Linked DNA regions of Homo sapiens. The protein of the gene in region 1 purifies or fractionates together with the protein of each later gene. This does not show direct contact. Each region holds a gene or a part of one and is shown on either strand. Other genes may lie near its edges. The genes, in order: GPATCH8, ABCA2 and FDX1.

Region 1 (3,648 bases):
CTTTCCTTAGATATCTTATAGTATTTATTGTACCACTGTCTTCTGGAGTTGAGAGAGAGTGTGAGAGAGAGAGAGAGAGAGAGAGAGAGAGAGAGTGTGTGTGTGTGTTGTTGAAGAGATCAAAGGCTGGCCTGATCTTCCCCTTCTTGATTGTTTTTGCCTAGCTGCTGAAAGGAGTCTGTCTTTAAGATTCAATAACTTTACTACACTATTGATTGTCACTGATTGTTCTGGGACCATTTTCATTGTCACACTATGTGCCCTTTCTTGTCCTGTGTAGTTGAGTGGATCTTCCTTTAGTGAGCATGTGCTGATAGCCTTTTTTTTTTTTTTTTTTTTTGAGACAAGGTCTCACTCTGTCACCCAGGCTGGAGTGCAGTGGCGCAATCTTGGCTTACTGCAGCCTCTGCGTCCCAGGCTCAAGTGGTCCTCCCACCTCAGCCTTTCAAGTAGCTGGGACCAAAGGCAAGTGACACCATGCTCAGCTAATGTTTTGTATTTTTGGTAGAGCCGGAGTTTCACTGTGTTACCCAGGCTGGTCTTGAACTCCTGAGCTCAAGCCATCTGCCTGCCTCGGCCTCCCAAAGTGCTGGGATTACAGGCGTGAGCCACCGCACCTGGCCTCAGCCTTTTCTTAGATCTGCCGCAATTGGGCAGAACTTTTTGCTTTTCTCTATGTGCATTCTTTGTACTGCAAATGTTTCCTCATCCACCCTAACCCAAGTTCATCCCTTTGTTCTTCCCAGATCTCAGAAATTCTTGATGAGTGCAAGAGATGTAGGTATATTCATTTCAGAGGATCCTTTTATGTACAGGATATATGTTTTGCCATTTTCTGAAATTGCCACCTTTGGCTTTTTTGATATTGCTTAGCTTTGCCTTGTCTGGCTTCTACTACATTTCCCTCATTCAGGTTCTATAAAGAGCTTAACTTTCCTTCTGTGTGTTTTTCATACTCCAGATCATATCTGTTGCCCAGTTCTTCTGAAAATGCAGTTGGTGGGGTTTTTTTAATTCATAATTTTGTTTTTATGATACCCAAGAAGAAAATCAAAGCTGTTTTCCTATACTGCTGTATTCATACCAGGAACTCTAGTTTTGTTGCTTAAATTTGCAGCCAGGTGTGGGGGCTGACACCTGCAATGTCATCACTTTGGGAGTCCAAGGTGGGAGGATCACTTGAGCCCAGGAGTTCATGACCAGCTTTGGCAGCATAGTGAGACCTCATCTCTACAAAAAATACAAAAGTTAGCTAGGTTTGCTGGTACACGCCTATAGTCCAAGATACTTGGGAGGCCGAGGTGGGAAGATTGCTTGAGCCCAGGAGGTGAAGACTGCAGTGAGCCATGAACTGCACTGTACTCCAGCCTGGGCAAAAAAGCCACAAGTCGTTTAATAGCCAAACAACATGAAACTGTCCGGGACTGTCAAAGAAAATTATTGTGAAGGATTAGATAGGGCAAAAATAACAATGTGCTACACATACTCACTTTTCAGTTTTAATAAGTCTGTCCAAATTAGTTCAGTACTGCCACTCCAGAAAATAATAACCTTTTCTTGTTTACTGATTAAGTAGCTCTTATGGGAGATGATAGAGCTGCTTTGAAACTGTAGATATAGTCTTTGAGATAAGACTTATCTTTTTTAGGTCAGTCTGCTAGAAGGAGTTGCTCATTATGAAAGTAATGCATCTACCCTGCTCTAAAAGTCAAGCAAGTAGTCACTTAGCATTCCTGTCCCTTTCTCATCCTTCTGTGCGACATTAGCAAATGAATATACTCAACTTGCTTTGAGGTATCTTTTAATTGTTTTCTCTTTTTTCCTTTTTGAGATGTCTTTTGATGTCTAGTTTTTAAGTGAAACTGCTGAGGCAAATTGGACTGCCTTTGAGTCAGTCCCACAGTTTTTTGTTGTTGTTGTTTTTCTCCAACCTCCTCTCACATGTAAGAGTCCCACAGTTTTCAATCTCGCTGAGACCAGCAGATAACACATATCTGTGGGTTGGCTTTCCAAGCAGTGCAGCTTATATGTAGAATGACCATAGAATATTTAACTCCATCATTGGCTACAGACTCAGGTAATGCTTTTTTCCTTCGTGTCTGAAAACTAGACTATTAATACAGGTTGTATATCCCTTATCCAAAATGCTTGAGACCAAAGGTGTTTCAGATTTCAGATTTTTTGGGGGTTTTGGAATATTTGCATTATACTTATCAGTTGAGCATCCTTAGTCCTTTTAAACATTTGTTTATTTGAAGACAATTGTTAGTATGACGACACACAGATTACCCACCAAAGTACCACTTGTGTTTCATCCAGCTTTTACTGGTACCACTAAATATTATGAAAAGCCCTTTTTTGTCTTCTCAGATAGACTGTTTTCTCTATAACATTCACTTAAAGTTTTACCAAGTTCATTTTTTGTTTCTTTGTATTTCATGGGTCTTGAAGGATTATGTTGACAAAGAGAAGGCAATTGCCAAAGCCTTGGAAGACCTCAGAGCCAACTTTTATTGTGAACTGTGTGATAAGCAATATCAGAAACATCAGGAATTTGATAACCATATCAACTCCTATGATCATGCACACAAGCAGGTGAGTTGTAGTTACTTGCTAACAGAAGAAGGTACCTATCTATTGTTACAACAATTGGATTTTATGAGTATACCCCCCAAAACTTGGTGTCTATGATTTCTTGTGTCTGCCAATCTTTATCTGCAGTCATCCAACACACTTTGTTTTTTCAGTGGCAGAAATCCTGACATAGACACCACCTCCAGCCCACACTCCCACATATACACTATTTGACAAATTGTGTTTTGTAAATCTTATATAATGTTTTTGCCTTTTATTGATTTCTAAGTTTTTATTTAATTTTGTAATTCAGCTGAGGGTCACTGGGAGCTTTGTTTCCATTTCTGCTCTTAACGCGTTAAACTTTGAAGAGTTATTCAGCAGACTGTTATTTTCAAGTTCCCTACATAAGATTTCATGCTTTATTGGCTACCATTTTCTATTATTAAGTCATTTTGCTATTCAATATACCTTGGAAGTTAGATAAATTTTGAGAAGGAAAATAAAATTAGATGCTATCTTAACTTTAACAAAAAACTCTGTTGCTGCATGTTGAAGAGCTGATAAATGAATTACACTTTGCAGTCTTTGCCCCCTCCCCCGCCGCCACCCCATCATTTTAGAGGAGAAAATTGTACCTAACTAGTTACTGATATACAGAAGATGGCAATAATCCCCCTGGGAGAGTTTAGAAGGGAAAAATAAATTGTTACACCTATAGGACAGTTCTGGCTTGTTAAAGAATTTCAAGCCATTTGATCTTGGGTGACTTTAACATAACTTACTAGGTTTTTGGGGGGTACAATAGTTGTATTTGTTAAACTTGTAAATTTATGAGCATTGGAATGATGTCTCCTAAGCTGGACTTGTTGAACTAAGATTTTTTTTTAGCCTTCATCTTCCACCAACCATAAGATTTCAGTGCACAGGTAAAAGGCAATCTTTGACCAAGTTTTATTCTTACTAGAACTGGAAGAATTTGTAAGCTGGTTGTGGTATTACACTTTTTTGGAACAGTCTCCCCCATTTAAATATACCTAACCAATTTAAGATTCTTCCACTAATGGACTTGTA
Region 2 (3,648 bases), on another chromosome or scaffold:
TTCAGGTGAAGTGAGCAAAGCACCTCTTTCTCACTCCACGCAGGTCCCACTAGGGCTCACCTTGGTGCCCAGCCTGGGTTAGCAGGAGCCGACCTGGGGAAACTGAGCTCCAAGGCCCAAGACTGGCTGCCCCGGGTCAGGAGAGGGGACAGGGCAGAAAGAGGTGCCTTTGGGCCAGGTGTGGTGGCTCACGCCCAGGTGGGCGGATCACGAGGTCAGGAGATCGACACCATCCTGGCTAACACGGTGAAACCCCGTCTCTACTAAAAATACAAAAAATTAGCTGGGCATGGTGGCGGGCGCCTGTAGTCCCAGCTACTCGAGAGGCTGAGGCAAGAGAATGGTGTGAACTTGGGGGACGGAGCTTGCAGTGAGCTGAGATCGCACCACTGTGCTCCAGCCTGGGTGACAGAGTGAGACTCCGTCTCAAAAAAAAAAAAAAAAAAAGGTGCCTTTGCTTCAGGGACTGGGGCTGTTAGACCCCTTACCAGGTCTTCTCCGAGGCTCAGGGCCCTGGGCGCAGGCCAAGCCTCTCAACCAGGCCTCCTCATCTCCCCAGGCCCCGGTATTGGTGGGGAGGAAGTGGGAGGAAGGTGAACCCGGGGCAGTGTGGGAAGTGTAGGCGGGGCTAGTGGCTCAGATGGTCCCCAAGATTTTGCCCAGGTAGCCCTGGAGGTGGGGAGGGAGAAGATGAGCTGGGATATACATGGGTCAGAGTAGACCACAAGCTGGCCGATTTGTCCCTGTAGGCCCTGAGGCTCCTCAGAGGGCACGTAGGCCCAGTGTGGGCTGGGGACGGGAAACCTGATTTGCTGAGCCAGACAATCCTTACCCTCAGTGCCCTGGAAGGGGCTCAGACCTTCAGTGGTTCCGAAGGGCCTGTGCCCACCTTCCCTGGCCCCAGGGAGCACGTGGTCCTGTCTGGGCTGGGCCAGCCCTATGGGAGGCTGGGGAGGGCCTAGGCGAGCACAGGTCTGTCCTATCCCTCACTGGGCCCACCCTTTCCAGTGGGTCCTGGCCTTCGAGATCTTCATCCCCCTGGTGCTGTTCTTTATCCTGCTGGGGCTGCGACAGAAGAAGCCCACCATCTCCGTGAAGGAAGGTGAGTGCGGCAGGAGGCCCCAGGCACAGCCGGGGGAGCGCGGCACCTCGCACGCCTGCGCTGTGTGTGCACATCTGCACACGGGTGTCCTGCTCCCGGAGTCCCTGAGGTGCGGTGCCTGCTCCCCTGTGTGGTCCTGGGCCGTGCCTCCTGGCTGGGCTGTGGAGGTCGGGGCTGGCCTGTGGCCGCGAATGATGATGCCAACGCCTCTTCCTGGTGATGTGGGCACTCACTGGTCTCCTCTGTTCTGTTTTGATCCCCCTCCCTCCCCGCATGGTCTCTTGTCCTCGGCTGGCATGCAGTCTGTAAGTGAGCGGCCACCTCCTCCTGGCTGGCCTGGGCAGCAGCTGCGGGGGGCCCATGGGCCGTCCTGGCTTGAGCGCCCTCCCCGCTTGCATTAACAGCCCTCCCGGGCCCCCTGCCGGCCTCAGGAACAGCTGGCTCCAGATGGGGGGTGGCAGGCAGTGAAGTGGGAGGTGGTAGGGAGTGAAAGGCCCGGCCACCTAAAGGCACAGCTGGTGCCTGGGTCAAGCTGAGGCGGCATCTCTCTGCCTGGCCTTGCCTTCTAGGGCTGGGGTGCCTCGGCTTCTGGGCTGAGTCTGGGCTGAGGCTGGGCTGGCCTGGGCTGGGGCTGGAGCGGCCTGGCTACTCTCCCTTCATACTCCTTCAGGCTCTTGCACTCACTCTGCTAACCAGCTGGCCAGAGGTCAGAGGTCACTGCCCAGAGGGGGTCCTTTGTCCTCCCCTGGGCTCTGTAGGCAGTGCCACACCTGAAACGTTTTCGGGGGGAGAGTGCCAGGGCATGTGGGCCTGCACTGGCTGAAAGGAAAGGAATGCTCTGGGAGTTATGGCAGAAGGGGTGGTGAGTGGCTCTTTGACCTCTGACCTGCTGGAGTCATTCGCCCCAGAACGCTTGGCCTGTAGCCCAGCTGGGGCCAGGGCTCTGTGCCGCCTTCTCCCTAACGCTGCTTCTCCTTCCTGACTTTCTCTAAATTTCTCCTCTCGGCCTCTGTCTCCCTCCCCTTCTGGATTCCTCTCTCTCTCTCTCCCCTTTCACCCCCGACCCTGCCCTCTCCCGTGGGTCTGCCAGCCTTCTACACAGCGGCGCCCCTGACGTCTGCCGGCATCCTGCCTGTCATGCAATCGCTGTGCCCGGACGGCCAGCGAGACGAGTTCGGCTTCCTGCAGTACGCCAACTCCACGTGAGTGCCCACCCGCCCCTCGGAGCACCCACCCCTCCCCAGCCCATCCAGTGAGTGACATCCGCCATGGTGCAGGGTCACGCAGCTGCTTGAGCGCCTGGACCGCGTGGTGGAGGAAGGCAACCTGTTTGACCCAGCGCGGCCCAGCCTGGGCTCAGAGCTCGAGGCCCTACGCCAGCATCTGGAGGCCCTCAGTGCGGGCCCGGGCACCTCGGGGAGCCACCTGGACAGATCCACAGGTGTGCCCTGTGCAGGGAAGTTGGGGGGCAGGGCTGCGGGCAAAGCTCTGCTGTCACTGGGCTGAAGCCCACATCCACTCTGGGCCCCTCCACCTGCACTGAGTTCCCAGCCACGCACAGGCTGCAGTGGCAGAGCTGTGGTGTTGGGCTCGGCTCCGAGCGCATGTGGGGGCACCTTGCCAAGGTGCAGCGGCCTCTCAGCCTCGCCTTCCTGCCTGTCCAGTGTCTTCCTTCTCTCTGGACTCGGTGGCCAGAAACCCGCAGGAGCTCTGGCGTTTCCTGACGCAAAACTTGTCGCTGCCCAATAGCACGGCCCAAGCACTCTTGGCCGCCCGTGTGGACCCGCCCGAGGTAAGGCAGGGACAGCTCCCAGCCCTGGCCACTCCCTTCTGCCCCAGCCACGCCCCCTGGTTGCTGAGCCATCCTCAGGATGCTCAGCCTGAGTCACGCCCAGACCGTCTGAACCTTGCCCCCACCATCTGAGCCACGCCCCCACTCTCTGAGCCATGCCCCCACCATCTGAGCCACGCCCCCACACCTACATCGGAGCCACGCCCCCACCATCTGAGCCACGCCCCCACTCTCTGAGCCACGCCCCCACCATCTAAGCCACGCCCCCACACGTCCATCGGAGCCACGCCCCCACCATCTGAGCCACGCCCCCCACACCCCATCTGAGCCATTCCCCCACACCTCCTAGGTCTACCACCTGCTCTTTGGTCCCTCATCTGCCCTGGATTCACAGTCTGGCCTCCACAAGGGTCAGGAGCCCTGGAGCCGCCTAGGGGGCAATCCCCTGTTCCGGATGGAGGTGAGGGCATCCATGTGTGGGATGGGCCTGGAGTGCTGCCTGCCTCTGGGGGTGCTTCTGCTCCGTGGGTGAGGAAAGGGCCCCTTTGGTGACTTGGAGCTCCTCCTGGGAGAGGGGGAGGGTCCCAGGGGTCTATGGCAGGCATGAGGGGTAGAGGCATGTCGTGGGACCCAGGCAGCCCCAGAGCCAGCCAGTGGGTGGGGCAGGGTGAGGCCTGAGGCCCTAGTGGTTGGGGACAAAGTCCTTGCCGTGGCTCCACGGACCCCTGTGCCCATCCCAGGAGCTGCTGCTGGC
Region 3 (3,748 bases), on another chromosome or scaffold:
CTGATGATTATTAATGGAAATTTCATAACATCAATTTATTCACCAATATTTATTAGACCCTTGATATGTTCAAGACCCTGTAGCTGGTGCTGTCGGAGTCACTAAGATGAACTATATAAATAACTACTCTATGTGTACGAATAACTACCCTACAAAGCAGAAAGCTATCAAGTGCCTTAAGGGAGTTGAAACTGTATTTGCTACAGGAGGGCTGAGAGAAGACAGAACATCTACGATTTTTTTTCTTTTCAATTCTCTTCCTACAACTAATTCATCCGACCTTGGAAGTTTGGTCTTACTAAAAACAAAAGTTAGCTGTTCTTTTACAACCTCCTCTTCAAGATTACTTGTCAGGGTTTGCTGTGCCCTTCGCAGCTTGAAAGACTTTCTCTTCATCCAACGATTTGAGGCAATTAGGAGCCACTGCCTTCTCTCTGCCATTGGGTTCCAGAAAGCACCATACATTGTCCGCAGATACTTTACTCATGCTTACACTTTCTTGTTCTGAATCTTCAAAAATTAGTGGCGTGTGGTGGCACACGCCTGTAGTCCTAGCTACTCGGGAGGCTGAGGCAGGAGAATCACTTGAACCTGGGAGGCGGAGGTTGCAGTGAGCCGAGATTTCGCCACTGCACTACAGCCTGGGCAGAATAGAGAGACCCCATGTCAAAAAAAGAAAAAAAAAGTATCTGATTGTGTTTAGCATATCTGCAATATCCCCTTGACTTTGGCCTTTAGCCTCTTTATGAGTACCCTGATGGAGGAAGGCCCAGGAAGCGGTAGCCTTCCTGGTTTGTGACGCACGGTGTGCATTGCGTATTAGATTAACATCAGAATGGCCCTGAAGGCTGGAACATCTTATCTGTGTTTGAGAGTTATGGAAACTCTGATCCTCCATGAGAATAATTTTTCCAAGGTCTCAGATCTCTAAAGCAGTAGATCTTGGATCTGAACATTGCTATTTCTGACCTTAAAGCCCATGCATTTCCCACAACATATGAACCATGATAAGGTGTATTTTAAAGTTCATCTTTTCTGTTTTTTGTGAAAGTCTTTTAGAGATCTCAGCTCATCACAAAGTTTCCGGTTCAGTCTCGTGGGTTTCATGTACTCAGCCAGCATTTACTTGCCAGTCAAGGTCTAGGATGGCTACCTGTCCTCTGCAGGAGCCCCAAGCCTATTCATTAATTTCATTTACAATTTTATAGTCATAATTATTTCTTTGTATAATAGCATTCTGAGATTTTCCAAAATTTCCCACTGTTTTTGTTTTACAGTGGGCAGAATTCACTTTGCTCTAACTTGACTCCAAGATGACACAATTTCCCAGTTTTTTTTTTAACGGCTAGGGGATGGGGGTATGCGGAACAGAACACAGTGGTCTAGCTAACCGATTTCCGCTAGACGTCCAGCTATCTTTCAAAATATTTTGTTTCTGCACGGCAACTTCAGCCGCTAAAAAAGCATCCAGCTTACAACGGAACCTGGAGGGTTGGTAAAGGCCCCCTGCGCTGGCCCCGCCCCATGGGACCGGGCGGCGTGGGCGTGAGAGGCGGGGCGGGGCCGCGCTCTGCTTGCCAATGTCTTTATAGGTCACCCGGAAGGCACGCGGAACCTCGGCGCGGTGCTTCCAGCAGGGTCTCTCCGCCACTCCAGCCCCGCGCCCCTCGCCGCGGCCCTCGGGCGTCTGCGCCGCAGCTGCCGCCCCCGCCTCTTTGGAGTCTCTCGCGGCCTCAAAGCGCGGCCTGCGTCGCTTCCGGCAGTTCCCGACCGCGGGCGATGGCTGCCGCTGGGGGCGCCCGGCTGCTGCGCGCCGCTTCTGCTGTCCTCGGCGGCCCGGCCGGCCGGTGGCTGCACCACGCTGGGTCCCGCGCTGGATCCAGCGGCCTGCTGAGGAACCGGGGGCCGGGCGGGAGCGCGGAGGCGAGCCGGTCGCTGAGCGTGTCGGCGCGGGCCCGGAGCAGGTAGGGCGCCGTGCGGGCGCGATCGCCGGCGCGGGCCGGGGTCCCCGGTGGGTGGCGCCTGGCTCTCTGGGCCGAGTCTCTGGTTCCAGTGCCTTCTGCGCGCCGGGCCCACACCCCGGAGGCCTGCCTCTCGCCCCCCTCTTCTGGGGTGCTCTCGCGGCTCCGTCTCGCTGCTCGGTGGCGTCGCTGCCTCCCTTCCGTCGCACCGCAGAGTTCCTTTCCGCATCACCCACTCCCGGCGGGAATCGGGGACCCTGGACGCCCAGCTCCCTTTCCCAGCGCTTCCCGTGCCCTGAGGAAAGCCGGGACTTTGCTGCTGCTTGTTCTCCGTGTGATTTGTCTGGGATCTGACCTTTGCTCTGCCCGAAACTGGCAGTGACCTTCGCGACAGGCTTCCCTCCTGCTGTCCTGGCCTGACACACCTGCCAGCTGTTTTTTTCAGGGCCTTGCCCTGCTTTGAGAGGACACCCAGGTCCCAGGTCTTTGTCAGGGGGTGTCCAGGTAGAATACACCCAGCCCATACCCTCTGCTGCCCTGTAGGCCCTTTGCTAGTTGCTCAAGTGTTGAAAGCCCCTGCGTTGAAGTAATCTGCCGGGACTTGAAACTTGGCTTTGGCACTGATTGTCTGACGTGCCTAACTTGGTCAGTCCTTAGGAACCCAGTTTCTCCATTTGCAAGTTGGATATAATAACAGTGTAGACCTCCTATGGTTAATTGAAGAATCAATGAGTTAATACAGCGATACAGGTAGTCTTGTGCCTAGCACGTAATGAGGGCTCAGTAGATGCCACTTGGTAGCAGCAGCAGCAGCAGCAGCAGCAGCAGCAGCAGCTTCTTAGGTTCACAATGTTAAGAGAGTTTTGTATTAAATATTGAAAGAAATGTGACAATTTATCCCAAATGTGTTGAAGTTTTAGGTTCTTGGGCATATTTGTTTTTCAAAGACACTCCTTAGATATACTAGAGATACAATTTACACATAATTTTTACCAACATGGTGGCGATTTATATAATGCAGATCTCTCGACAGCTCTTTGACCGCATGATGTAGGGTAGCAGGAATCGAGAACTAGAGGGAGAGTGTGTTGGATTTGTACGCTGCTTTGTCTAGTTTCTTTTTGAGGTCTCTGAGAGCAGGGTCTAAGACTTTCAGTCATCTTTTCCCCACTAATCCCGTTATCTAGTGGGTGCTCCATACATTTTTGTTGTGTGAACTTTGGGGGAAATCAGGGAGAAGGCAAGCCAGATTTATTTGTTCCTGTTTCCTCTGCACTTCCCCCCCTGTCTTTGACCAGTGTGGGTACCTTGCTTTCTGTTATACAATGGATGAGTTTTGGACAACTGAATCAATTGGGACAGATATTGAACATGCTTGTGTAACTGGTATAAGGGAACATGAATGTTTTTGTAGTAATTGGGAGTTATCTTTCTCAGATTTGTTTTTTGGATTTGGATATGTCAGGTTGTTTTAAAGGGGAGCACGTCTATTTCCTCATAATCCTGCTGCCCTCTTTATTGGCACAATTTCTATTCATGGTCTTATCATTCCTCTTACAGACTTTGGAGCTACAACTGGATTTTCCAGTTCTTACTGTGTTAATGAGACTTGTGCTGTAACTACCGTAACTACTAATCACATGTGGCTATTGAAGTTTAACATAATTAAAGGTAAATAAAATTAAAGATTCAATCTCGTAGTTACACTAGCCACATTTCGAGTTCTCAGTAGCCACATGTGGCTAGTGGCTACTGTATTGGACATTGCAAGTATGTGTAGAACATCT

Evidence for each region.
Region 2: the proteins of GPATCH8 (region 1) and ABCA2 purify together in Homo sapiens (affinity purification with mass spectrometry; one large-scale study listed by BioGRID and IntAct). This does not show direct contact.
Region 3: the proteins of GPATCH8 (region 1) and FDX1 purify together in Homo sapiens (affinity purification with mass spectrometry; one large-scale study listed by BioGRID and IntAct). This does not show direct contact.

What each region holds. Positions count from the first base shown.
Region 1 is NC_000017.11:44,423,296-44,426,943, reverse strand, and holds part of GPATCH8 (G patch domain-containing protein 8), read left to right. Parts: intron 1-2,451; coding exon 2,452-2,595; intron 2,596-3,648.
Region 2 is NC_000009.12:137,021,597-137,025,244, reverse strand, and holds part of ABCA2 (ATP-binding cassette sub-family A member 2), read left to right. Parts: intron 1-1,008; coding exon 1,009-1,102; intron 1,103-1,404; coding exon 1,405-1,407; intron 1,408-2,192; coding exon 2,193-2,304; intron 2,305-2,379; coding exon 2,380-2,543; intron 2,544-2,766; coding exon 2,767-2,894; intron 2,895-3,243; coding exon 3,244-3,354; intron 3,355-3,634; coding exon 3,635-3,648. UniProt on the Homo sapiens protein: Probable lipid transporter that modulates cholesterol sequestration in the late endosome/lysosome by regulating the intracellular sphingolipid metabolism, in turn participates in cholesterol homeostasis.
Region 3 is NC_000011.10:110,428,342-110,432,089, forward strand, and holds the start of FDX1 (adrenodoxin, mitochondrial precursor), read left to right. Parts: upstream 1-1,606; 5' UTR 1,607-1,779; coding exon 1,780-1,964; intron 1,965-3,748.